3 separate regions of the Homo sapiens genome follow, and all the other regions are linked to region 2. Evidence: fine-mapped expression QTL. A gene starts in region 2. Each other region holds a variant in brackets. All regions are shown on one strand. Distances are between the middles of the regions.

What was found. PIP is the estimated chance that this variant, and not a neighbour inherited with it, causes the effect.
Region 1: its variant is the best candidate, but not a certain one, in a credible set for the expression of ZNF217 in skeletal muscle (GTEx, PIP 0.68).
Region 3: its variant is the best candidate, but not a certain one, in a credible set for the expression of ZNF217 in monocytes (Quach 2016, PIP 0.87).

Annotation. Positions count from the first base shown.
Region 1 is chr20:53,650,121-53,654,350 of GRCh38, reverse strand. No RefSeq gene overlaps it. Among named protein-coding and RNA genes, the nearest start is that of ZNF217, 58 kb to the right of the region's middle. RefSeq lists an enhancer at 1,100-1,149. The variant A/C (reference allele first, on the strand shown) is at 1,895.
Region 2 is chr20:53,591,346-53,595,575 of GRCh38, reverse strand. It overlaps ZNF217 (zinc finger protein 217), which reads left to right and starts at 1,737. Exons shown (of 6, transcript NM_006526.3): 1 at 1,737-1,820. RefSeq lists silencers at 717-1,556, 1,647-1,726, 2,217-2,366, 2,787-3,026.
Region 3 is chr20:53,560,762-53,564,991 of GRCh38, reverse strand. ZNF217-AS1 (ZNF217 antisense RNA 1) reads right to left here. Exons shown (of 6, transcript NR_110051.1): 3 at 2,125-2,243. Among named protein-coding and RNA genes, the nearest start is that of ZNF217-AS1, 10 kb to the right of the region's middle. The variant G/AG (reference allele first, on the strand shown) is at 2,266.

The sequences.
Region 1 (4,230 bases), 59 kb before region 2:
CCCAGGTTCAAGTGATTCTTCTGCCTCAGCCTCCCAAGTAGCTGGGACTACAGGCACACGCCGCCATGCCCAGCTAATTTTTGTATTTTTAGTAGAGACGGGGTTTCACCATATTGGCCAGGCTGGTCTTGAACTCCTGACCTCGTGATCCGCTGTCCTTGGCCTCCCAAAGTGCTAGGATTACAGGCGCGAGCCATTGTGCCCAGCCCCAACTCAACTTTTAATTTAACTTTGGGAAGGCTGTTTTGAAAAGAGGGGTTATTTTTTAAAATTTGGAGTCTTTGGATTTATTTGTCAAAAATACATAGTTTAACAAATAATTTTAAGTATATAATAGTACAGAAATGTACTCTTTTTTGTAAAAGACAATATGGAGTAAAAGGTTTATGAAGAAATTGATTTCATAAGGGACATCTGAAACTAATCAATGAGTATCCTCAATCCAAAGTCGGGGCGGTGGCTCACGCCTATAATCCCAGCAGTTTAGGAGGTGGAGGCAGGCTGATCACCTGAGGTCAGGAGTTTGAGACCAATCTGGCCAACATGGTGAAACCCCATCTCTACTAAAAATACAAACGTTAGCCGGATGTGCTGGCCCATACTTGTAATCCCAGCTACTTGGGCGGCTGAGGTACGAGAATCACTTGAACCAGGGAGGTAGAGGTTGCAGTGAGCCAAGATCGCGCCACTGCACTCCAGCCTGGGAGACAGTGAGACCCTGTCTCAAAAAAAATCAAAACAAAACAACAACAACAACAACAACAAAAATGCCCCAAGACAGGTCCAGGGAACTGGATGGTAAATTTCCAAGTAGAAACACCCTAATCCTGAAACCAAATTCTCAGTCCACAACTTGCCGTATGCCTGAGCTCCATCATTTATTTTTTAAATTGATTTTTTAGCAACCAGCTGAGGCCTCTGCTTCCTTCAAATATGCAACTATCATAGTTACTTCCTTCTACTCCTTCCCTCCCGTGGGCCCAGAGGGCTAACACAAAAATTTCCCCCTTGATAAATGCTGATAGCAGTGTGAGAACAGCTGCTTTTCCCCAAGCTTGGACAGGCCTTTTCTCAATTTTAATATGTATCGGCCCTTACTGACTAACCTCGGCTTTGCAAACCCTTGCTTGGCTGGAAAGACTTACCTCCTGCAAAATAGAATGGTGGTGTTAAGAATTTTAGCTTGCAGATAAACACATTTAAATGCAGTGATAGCTCTTGAACATTGCACTCCCAATTTAATCTTTAATTTCTCCCAGATACACAGTAAACTTGAAATGGTCTTTAAAAATAAAGACTAAAAAAATTAAAAAGCACTAAAAGCTTTAAGGATACATGTCCAAATTACCCTGTAAAGAGTTGTTACCAAACAAAACAAACAAAACACCACGTTCACAGAGATTAATTACAGGGGACCTAAATTGAGAACTATCTAGTATCATAAATGATCATGATAACCAACAAAACTGAATTAGCATCAGTTTGAGACCTCACAGTTAAAGAAGGAAATAGACAAAAAAAAGTCTACTGTTTGAAAAGTGTTTAAACATTGACTGCTGTGAAAAGGGGTATAAAAATAAAACCAAAGAGATGGAAGAACTGTTTTCTGTGTGCAGTGGGAAAGTTTACACAGTTGACAAGCTGTCATGTGGGGATGTCCCAGCAACATTCAAAAGTCTATTTCCTTAGATCAAAAAGGACAGACACAAGCCCAATATTTATATTAATATCTGTGCTCGTTGGTCATAGTCCCTCTTCCCCAGAGTAATTATATGCTGCATCCGTGGAGCAATGTGTCTAATACCTTAATTCTCTGAGTACAAAGACCAGTGGGGTCATATGACGTTGCTATATTTAGAAAAGGACCTGCTTTCTGTTTTGCGCAACTCTTAAC[A/C]ATTTTCTGCTCTGAAGAGAGTTTCAAATGTACATTGATCTTTCTCATATCGTGAATGAACTGAATTAGCACCTGTTTTCAACTGCCACGATACTTATTTTAAAAAAGGGGAAAGAGAAGTCTGTGTACTCTTAATTCAACAAGGGACATGGGAGGTGTAATTTTTTTTTCTGCCTTCTTCCACAGAACTTAACCAGAAAGCAGTGATATTTACCAAATTTTACAGAGGCTAAGGTAGGTACTGTACAACTGAACAAAGCAACATGTGGAATGGTGATTATATCCCACGGTGATTTAGATGAAAATTTTCCAAAAACAAAACAAAACAAAACAAATACTACTAATGTTGGGAAGAGCTAACTCATGTAACTACGCAAAGTAACTGTGAATAATTAACTCTAAAGAAGCAGAAAAATAATTTATTAGTTACAGAAATGTCTGTGTAAGCCCCTTCCTCATAAAATACCTGGAAATAATAATGATTGTTTAAATGAACAGGTTTTGTTTTCTTTTTTTTTTTTAAATCATAAACATCAATTGACTACAACAAGTCCAATCCGTTTGGAAGCATGCTTGCCATCTATCAATATATTTTTTTTAGTAACCAAAGGTTAATTTTATGTTGATAAAATGAAATGTACAATAAAAGTTAGAAAATGTATAAACTTTTTTTTTTTTTTTTTTGAGATGGAGTCCCGCCCTGTCGCCAGGCTGGAGTGCAGTGGCACAATCCCGGCTCACTGCAACCTCTGCCTCGCGGGTTCAAGCGATTCTCCTGCCTCAGCCTCCCTAGTAGCTGGGATTACAGGCGTGTGCCACTATGCCCAGCTAATTTTTGTACTTTTAATAGAGACGGGGTTTCATCATGTTGGCCAGGATGGTCTTGATCTCTTGACCTTGTGATCCGCCCACCTCGGCCTCCCAAAGTGCTGGGATTACAGGTGTGAGCCACCGCGCCCGGCCGAAAATGTATAAACTTTTATGTGCAAAGAGTATAATAAACATATGTAATGATAATAGCTTAATTTTTTTAAAAAAATTTTTTCTTTTGCAATGGAGTTTTGCTCTTATTGCCCAGGCTGGAGTGCAATGGTGCGATCTTGGCTCACCGCAACCTCCGCCTCCCGTGTTCACGTGATTCTCCTGCCTCAGCCTCCGGAGTAGCCGGGATTATACGCATGTGCCACCACCCCCGGCTAATTTTGTATTTTTTTAGTGGAGATGGGGTTTCTCCATGTTGGTCAGGCTGGTCTCAAACTCCCGACCTCAGGTGATCTGCCCGCGTTGGCCTCCCAAAGTGCTGGGATTACAGGCATGAGCCATCGTGCCCGGCCTATAATAGCTTAATTTTTTAAACTTTTATTTCAATAACTTTTGGGGTACAGGTGGTTTTGGGGTTACATAAACTCTTTAGTGGTGACTTCTGTGATTTTAGTGCACCCGTCACCCCAGTGCATGCTGCACCCAATATGTAGACTTATTCTCAGAATATTCTTTTTTTTTTTTTTGAGACGGAGTCTCACTGTGTCGCCCATGCTGGAGTGCCCTGGTGGGATCTCAGCTGACTGCAACCTCCGCCTCCCGGGTTGAAGCTATTCTTCTGCCTCAGCCTCCCAATTAGCTGGGATTACAAGCGCTCAGCCGCCATGTCCAGCTGATTTTTGTATTTTTAGTAGAGACGGGGTGTTGGCCAGGCTCGTCTCCAACTCCTGACCTCAAGTGATCCGCCCACCTTGGCCTCCCAAAGTGCTGGGATTACAGGCATGAGCCACTGCACCCGGCCCAAATATTATATTTTATCAATTCTAAAGTGCACTTTAGTTTTTACATTTTAATATAACTAAAATCAATATGTATTTTGCAGTCAATGGCATCTTGCTATTATTTGAAAACATTTATTTAATAGTCCGTAAAATAATGGAACATGCCCAGATGCAGTGGTTTATGCCTGTAATCCCAGCACTTTGAAGGGTCAAGATAGGAGGATCGCTTGAGCCCAGGAGCTCGAGACCAGCCTGGCCAATATAGTGACAGAGACCCCAACTCTACAGAATAAATAAATAAGTAAATAAAATAATGGAAAATCTCACAAATGGTGACGTTTTAGGTTCGACAAAATACAGTAACTAGCCCATTTAGTTTTCTGAAATTTTGATGTTATTGCTTAAATATTTGTTCTGTGGTACACAACCGTAGGATTAATAATATTGATGAAAATAATAAAAGAGTAATAAGCATGTATTGAGCTCTTCCTGTGTGAAGTTCTGGACAAATCCTCATAAAGCCTTAAAAGGCAGATACTAAGCTGGGCGCAGTGGCTCATGCCTGTAATCCCA
Region 2 (4,230 bases):
TAACCAGACCATATGTGGGGTTAGTAGTTATATATAAAATGACAGCAAAACATGACACTTGGCAAATTCTTCCCCTTTGCTGAGCTGTCTTCTCAAATTCCTTTTCCTATTTATTAAGATTGCATTGCTCACCAGCTCCGGATCGTTTCTGTAGTGCGTTCTTTCTTTTGATTTAGGAAATAGATATTTTAAATGCTTTTCTTGATGTGTTTTAAAGTTTTTTCATTTTGGATATGCTGAAGGCCGGTAAAAACACAAATATTTGGCTATTTTGTTAGTAGCGACTTGCATAGATCCATTTCACATTTGCATTAGTTTGCATTTTGGGGTAGAAAAATTGTGGATGTGCTTGTTATGTCTATGGTTCCTCGAAGCTTATTTAAAATGGGGAAATATCACAGGCCTTAGGAATCAGGATCTTTTTTTTGTCCTTTTTTTCAGTAAGGAAAGAAAACATTTGGGAAACGCTTTAAATGAGTTGTGCGTAGGGAGGAGGGGAAAGGGTAGCGGTTTTTTTTTTTTTTTTTTTGTCCCTTTTTTTGTCCCCGGTTTCCTCCAAATGGATTTCTATCAAAACCAAGTAGATTCTTGGAACCTAGGCTAAGTTTAGAAATCTCAAGTTAGAATAGCGCAAGCCCAGCCCTTTCAGAAAAAAAAAAATCACAACAATTAAATAGCTTTCTGAAGATACTCATTTAAAAACTGTTTATCTTCTCGACCTTCCTCAAGCTTGAAGAAAATCTTTGGTGTTTTTCGCGCACAGCTGCCTTCTAACCCGCGAGCAACGGCGTTAAGGTTTTTGTTTGTAATTCGGGGTGACCCAGGGGTTCGGGCCGCGGGCCCCTCCCCTCGCCCGCGCACACCTTGCAGAGGAGGGGGCGGCGGGGACAGGGCCGGATCTGCGCCTGCGCACACCCTCGCGGCCCCCTCCCTCCGGCCTCCCCGGGTACCTGTCACGGCTACCGCCGCGGCGCGCGCCCGCCACGTTAAGCCGGATGGCGGGAGGAGGGGTGCGGGGCGGGGGGCGCGGGGAGGGTGGCACGGCGCGCGCGTGCGCGGGAGTCGCCGAGCGAGAACTGGGAGTGCGCGCGCTCGCCGCTCGCTCCCGTCCCGGAGGCGGAGTCGGCGGCGGGGGGCGGAGCAGGGGCGCGCCTATGCTAGTCACGTGGGCGCTGGGGCGGGGCCGGGGCGGTGTGGGGCGTGGCCGGGCGGCCGGTGAAGGCAGGGGGCGGGGCGGCCGGTGAAGGCAGGGGGCGGGGCGTCTCCGAGCGGCGGGGCCGAGGGAGGGCGCAACAGCTGCTCCCTGAACACTTTCTGACCCAACAGTCCCCCAGCGCCGGACGCGCCGCGCCCCGGCGGCTCTAGGGACCCCCCGCGCCTGCACTGTCCCCGCGCGGACGAGTAGGGGGCGCCCGCGCCTTTGCCCCCGTGCGCACCCCCGCCCCGCTCACCTTAGCCCCGCGCCCGAGGTGAGCCCGGCCCCTATATTCTCCGGGCGGGGGTGGGGGTGGGGGACGCTCCTTTTTTGTTGGGGGGGGGTCTTGGAGGCGCGAAGGCACTAGGCTCCTCGGCGGATGGCTGCACCCCTCGCCCGCGGCTCCCCGTGTCTTTTGGGGGGCCGGGTGCGGGCGCGGAATCCGGGAGGTGTCCGCACAAAAGGCTGAGAGAAACTCCGCGACGCCTCCCTCCCTCCCTCCGCCCTCCCCGCCCCCTCCCCTCCGCGCCCGCTCCTCCTCATTCAAACCCGGCCGGCCCGAGTGGTGTCAGCTCAGTCCCGGCCGCCGCCGCGCGAGGAAATGGCCGAGGAGCCGGAGCCGCAGGTAAAGGGGGCGCGCCCCCCGCCCGCGCCAGCCGGGGCGCCCGCCCGGTCCTGCGGAGGCTCCCGCGCCGCCCCCGAGGCGCCCGGCTCTCGTTGTCTTGTCCCCCCCCAGGATGACCTCAGTTCCCCGTCTCAGCTTTCTATCCGCTCCTCTAGGGCGCCCCCTCCCCAGCCGGCTCCTGCGCTTCCGCCCGCGGGAAGGTGCGGGCGATCCCGGGCTGCATCCGCTCTTGGCCGTCACACTCACGCCGCACGATTCAGAGGGGCTTGGGGTGCGGGGTTCCCTGAATCTCCGCCGGGAGCGGGGGTCTGCGGGGGTGGGCGGTGGGGGGCTGTTCCGAAAAGTTGGGTCGCCCCGCGGGGCGGGTCTCCCAATTTGCCCAGTTGGCCCTTGGGGCGCGGGCGGAGGGGGAACGTCGGCGTAGGGTCCCCCCGCGATGCCCGGGGAAGGGCCGGGGCAAGTTGGAAGCGGCCAAAACAATGCGTCCGGACGGGCATCCCCCCGTAAACAATGGCCGGGACGGTCCACTCGGGCCGGGCGGAGGGCGCCTCTAAGGGACCGCGGGAGGGGCTGGGCCTCGCCGCGGACCCCGACGCGCGCCCCGTGACTCCCTCGGGTGCCCAAAAATCTGTCCCCGGGAGTCTTGGGGCGCCTGCTCATCCCTGAACAGGGATGCACGGGGCTGCGTTTCCTGGATGTGTGCGATAAGGTGGCTTTTTTTTTCCCTCCTCTAATTTTAAAGATTTTTTTAAGTCTTAATGTTCTATAAACACTTAAAGAATATCTTTACAACTCAATTCTAGTGGAACACCCAAAGCCAGCTGGAAGCAGAACTGGGAACTCTAAAGGGCAGGAAGGATTGAAATGCTAGCCCAAAAGTGCTGCTGCTTTTTTTTTTCTTTTCTTTTTTTTTTTTTTTAAGGGAAGTTTCTGCCAGGAGGTGCCGAGTGGTGAAACCGCTCAGTTTCAGGCACAGCCCTCTTGTCTCTCGATTTGGCCCCGACTGCGAGCCGGACGGGATGGTGGAGAGGCGGAGGGCGCTGCTGGGGGCCCGGGAGGCTGGATTTGGGGCTGCCTGGGCGGTCCCGCCCGAGGGGCAAGACCCGGCACGCGGGGCGCGCGCCGGAACCTGGGTCCCGGGAGTTTGAGAAGATGTTCAGGGCCCGGGTTGGAACCCACATTTTGGGATTCTGGGTAGGGCCACCGAAGACGGGAAGGCGCTTTCTTGGGCGGGTGGGGGTGGGGTGAGCAGGCAGGGAGTTTTCCGCCAGGTTTAGTTACAGGAGCTAGAAAAGGCCACTTCTGGGACCCTGGCATCTGGGCCGCCCTGAGAGCCCCAGAAACTTTTTTTTCTTTTTCTTTCCCCCCACCCCCCAGAAAAGGGTAGTCATTTCAGGTTTAAGGCTTTGGTGTATTGTTCTACCTCGAAATTCCTTGAGCCTCAGTTTATCTTCCTGAATCAGTCTATGGGGCTTGGAGCGTTGAACATTCCTAAACACGGAGAAAGTAAATGGCGGTTGCAGTGGTCCACTGGCCAGTTTGGGGGTCCTGTATTATTGGCCACTGTGTGTCCTACAGCGTAGCTAGGTTTTTCAGTTTTCTAGATCGTTTGGAAGCATTAAGCTGTATGTTTTAAGAAGCCTAGGTCTGATTTAGTTCAGGTTGATTCAATTATGTCTTCATTGCTTTTGAGTTGGTTGAATGACTTGACATGAGATTAAGCTCAACAAAAGAAAAGGCGAGGTAGCAACAGCTGCCGTCCAGGCCTGGCCACTAGGTAGGGGTCTTAGGAGGCCTTTTACCTTCTCTTTTGTATATGTCAAGAAGGAGATTTACAATGTTCTTATTTTACTGTACTTCTTTCCCCTGAAGTGGATGTTCTTTCTTGATTGATATCAAACAAGACTTAAAATGCTAAGTTTTATGATACTTAGACAACGAGTAATAGATGTAGTTTCTAAAAGCCTTGATGTGTCTGCAGTGACAAGTGCAGAGGAATAACCTCATTGCTTTTTGTCTGAAAATATAACAGGCAAGCCACTAGTTTGTGCTTACTTAATGTGTGCTAAGAACTTTTAAGGTGTGTCCTTAATGGTAGATAACTTTTTTCCTTCTGGGAAGTCATATTTATTTTAGATATTGTTTTGTTCAGGGTTCTGGAGACTAATAGTGTTTCGTTTTGTTTCTTAACCCTGATGTTGCTGCCATTTTTAATCGGTTATATTTAAATTCAAGAGGCAGTAAGTTATTTAAAATACAGTTGTCAGTAGTTCCAAGGCAGATTCATCATTTATTTTAATTGTTAGAATAGGATTAATAATCTGTTTGTTTGGAATTTTAATGATTTGGCGTGATGAGGAAAGCTAGTCCTTTAGAATTGTCTTTATTTGCCTACAGAAGGAGGAAGTAG
Region 3 (4,230 bases), 31 kb after region 2:
TTCTCCTGCCTCAGCCTCCTGAGTAGGTGGAACTACAGGTGCCTGCCACCACATCCGGCTAATTTTTTTTGTATTTTTAGTAGAGATGGGATTTCACTGTATTAGCCAGGATGGTCTAGATCTCCTGACCTCATGATCCACCTGCCTTGGCCTCCCAAAGTGCTGGGATTACAGGCGTGAGCCACCGCGCCCAGCCTAAAGTAACCATTTTTAAAAATTATTATTTTTTTCTAAGAATGAGTCTCGCTCTGTAGCCCGGGCTGGAGTGCAGTGGCACGATCTTGGCTTACTGCAACCTCCACCTCCCGGGTTCAAGCAATTCTCTGCCTCAGCCTTCCGAGTAGCTGGGACTGCAGGCGCATGCCACCAAGCCCGGCTAATTTTTGTATTTTTAGTAGAGATGGGGTTTCACCATATTGGTCAGGCTGGTCTTGAATTCCTGAGCTTAGGTGATCCATCTGTCTCAGCCTCCCAAAGTGCTAGGATTACAGGTGTGAGCCACTGCGCCCAGCCTAAAAATTAATTTTTGATTTATCTTTTCATTAATTCTTTTTGAAAATACAGGCATATTTGCAGGTCTATTTATATCTCCCTTTCTTATTTAAAAAGGAGTTTACAGTCCACACTAGCACAGGCTGATTTTAGCACTGTTTCATTGTTTTCCTGGAGAATGAAACAGCACACACACACACACACACACACACACACACACACACACACGAAAAAAACGCTGAAAAAAAATTTTTTTTTAAAAGAACACGGTTTTCTGCTGAACATCAAATGACTCGAAGAAATCTACTTTGGAGAGGTTGAAGTTGGTGGTCTTTTCTCTACCTGCTTTTATTTCTTCAGTATATCTTTATTGAGCTTTCACTAAGTGCCAGGCGCTTAGGGCTAGTACTGGCTGGGTGCCAGGGACATGTGTCTCATGAACCAGGTAGCATTTCCTACCCTCTTGGGGCTGTCTTTGTGGGGTTGCTGGTGGTGGAAGACATTGAAAATAGGTCATCATGGCTGGGCGCGGTGGCTCATGCCTGTAAGTCTAGCACTTTGGGAGCCCCAGGCTGGTGGATCACTTGAGGTCAGAAGTTCCAAACCAGCCTGGCCAACATGGCAAAACCCCGTCTCTACTAAAACTACAAGAATTTGCCGGGTTTTGTGGTGTGCGCCTGTAATCCCAGCTACTTGGAAGGCTGAGACACAAGAATTGCTTGAACCTGGTGGGAGGAGGTTGCAGTGAGCCAAGATCGTGCCACTGCACTCCAGCCTGGGTGACACAGCAAGACTGTGTCTCGGAAAGAAAAGGGCTGGGGAAGGGGAGGGGAAGGGAAGGGAAGGGAGGGGAAGGGAGGGGAGGGGAGGGGAGGGGAGGGGAGGGGAGGGGAGAAAAGGTCAACAGACCAGTTATGGCCCTGCTGTAGTGGCTGGGGAGGAAATCAGCAGGAGACTGAGAATAATTAGGAGAACCCACGAGAGCTGGGTGGTCAGGACAGGACCTAACAGGTCCTAGAGGATGAAAGGAGGTGGCCATGTAATTAATGCTTTATAAAGAATCTTGGCCGGGCACGGTGGTTCACGCCTGTAATCCCAGCACTTTGGGAGGCCGAGGCGGGTGGATCACGAGGTCAGGAGATTGAGACCATCCTGGCTAACGCGGTGAAACCCCGTCTCTACTAAAAATACCAGAAAATTAGCCGGGCGTGGTGGCTGGTGCCTGTAGTCCCAGCTACTCGGGAGGCTGAGGCAGGAGAATGGCATGAACCTGGGAGACGGAGCTTGCAGTGAGCTGACATCGCACCACTGCACTCCAGCCTGGGCGACAGAGCGAGACTCCGTCTCAAAAAAAAAAAAAAAAAAAAAAAAAAGAATAGGTTACAGCTATTGATATTTACCTTAATAGATATGGAAAACTATTAAATAATTTACAAATTCAAGAACAACAATAATCCCACTACATGTTAATATAAAGAAAATTTGGCCGGGCGCAGTGGCTCACCCCTGTAATTCCAGCTCTTTGGGAGGCCAAGGTGGGCAGATCATCTGAGGTCGGGAGACCAGCCTGGCCAACATGGTGAAACCCCGTCTCTACTAAAAATACAAAAATTAGCGAGGTGTGGTACTCACCTGTAATCCCAGCTACTTGGGAGGCTGAGGCAGGAGAATCGCTTGAACTCAGAAGGCAGAGGTTGTAGTGAGCTGAGGTCGTGCCATTGCAAGCCAGCCTCAGCGAAAGAGTGAGACTCCTTCTCAAAAAAAAAAAAAAAA[G/AG]AAAAGAAAATCTTTTAGTCAGGGATGGTGGCTCTTGCCTGTAATCCCGGCACTTCTGCAGGCCGCGGAGGGTGGATCGCTTGAGCCCAGGAGTTTGAGACCAGCCTGGGGAACATGGAGAGACCTCATCTCTACAAAAAATACAAAAATTAGCCGGCCATGGTGGTGCATGCCTGTAGTCCCAGCACTTTGGAAGGCCGAGATGGGAGGATTGCTTGAGGCCAGGAGCTCGAGACCAGCCTGGGCAACAGAGTGAGACCTCTGTCTATACATAAAATAAAATAAAATAACAAAATTAGCTGGGCATGGTGTTGCAAACCTGTAGTCCCAGCTACTCAGGAGGTTGAGGTGGGAGGATCACTTGAGCCCAGGAGGTTGAGGCTGCAGTGAGCTATGATTGTACCACTGCACTCTATCCAGTCTGGGCAGCAGAACAAGACCAACTCAATGGAAAAATAATAATAACTTGTTTTTTTTTTTGAGACAGAGTCTCACTCTGTCTCCCAGGCTGGAGTACAGTGGTGCGATCATGGCTTGACCTGGGTTTAAGGGATTCTCCCACCTCTGCCTGTCCAGCAGCTGGAACTACAGGTGCTTGCCACCATGCCTGGCTAATCTTTTTTTTTTTTTTTTTTTGAGACAGAATTCACTCTGTCACCTAGGTGCAGAGTGCAGTGGTGTGATCTTGGCTGATTGCAACCTCTGCCTCCCTGGTTCACCTCAGCTTCCCGAGTAGCTGGGATTACAGGTACATGCCACCACACCCAACTGATTTTTATATTTTTAGTAGAGAAAGGGTTTTGCCATGTTGGCTAGGCTGGTCTCGAACTCCTGACCTCAAGTGATCTGTTGCCTTGGCCTCCCAAAGTGCTGGGATTACAACTGTGAGCCACTTCACCCGGCCTAATTTCTGTGCGTTTTTTTTTTTTTTTTTTTTTTTGTAGAGGTAGGGTCTTGCTATGTTGCCCAGGCTGGGTGAGTTTTGCAAAATGGTTATGTGTGTGAATTTAGCTGAAGCAATAACGAGGATTTGGTTGCATTGGGAACCAAACCAGTCTCTAGTTATGAAGAAGGCAATGAGCACAACACACTTCTGCCAAATTGTAGGGGAGAAGTGCGTTCTTGAAGACCATCAATAACTGAATATCTGAACTATTCAAGGCTATTTTTCTCAATGGAACTAACTGACCAATGATGGGGCATTTTACTTAGTGCCATAAAGTGTCACCTCCAGGTGGCACGGGTGTTAACAAAGTTTGCCAGTTCCTTGTTCTACCAGCTTTGAAATTCAACTTTGATAGTTGAGCAACTTTTCAAAGATGGAACATTTGTGTTATTTCAAATGCTGTGGGGAACATTTGTGTTATTTCAAATGCGGCAGAAAAGATGAAACTCTATTAGTAACGCTTTTAATAAACTTTAAATTTTTTATAATTCAAAAAAATTTAAAGTTCCTTGAGCTAGCTTGTATGTTCATTACCTAGTGTAGTCCTTGTGCTTAGTGATTGTAACAGCAGAGCAAAATGACACCGCTGTTATATGGATATTTATTTCCAGTGATGCCAAAGGCCCAGTTTTTTTTTCTTTCTTTCTTCCTTCCTTCCTCCCTCCCTCCCTTTCTTTCTTTCCTTCCTTCTTTCCTTCCCCTCCCTTCTTCCTTCCTTCCTTGTTTTTGACAGTCTTGCTCTGCTCTGTCACCCAGGCTGGAGTGCAGTGGAATGACCTCGGCTCACTGCAACCTCTGCCTCCCAGGGTTCAATCGATTCTCCTGCCTCAGCCTCCTGAGTAGCTGGTATTATAGGCATGCACCACCACGCCTGGCTAATTTTTGTATTTTTAGTAGAGACAGGGTTTCATCGTCTTGGCCAGGCTGGTCTCCAACTCCTGACTTTAAGTGATCTGCCCGCCTCAGCCTCCCAAAGTGCTGGGATTACAGGTGTGAGCCACCACTCCTGGCCCCAAAAA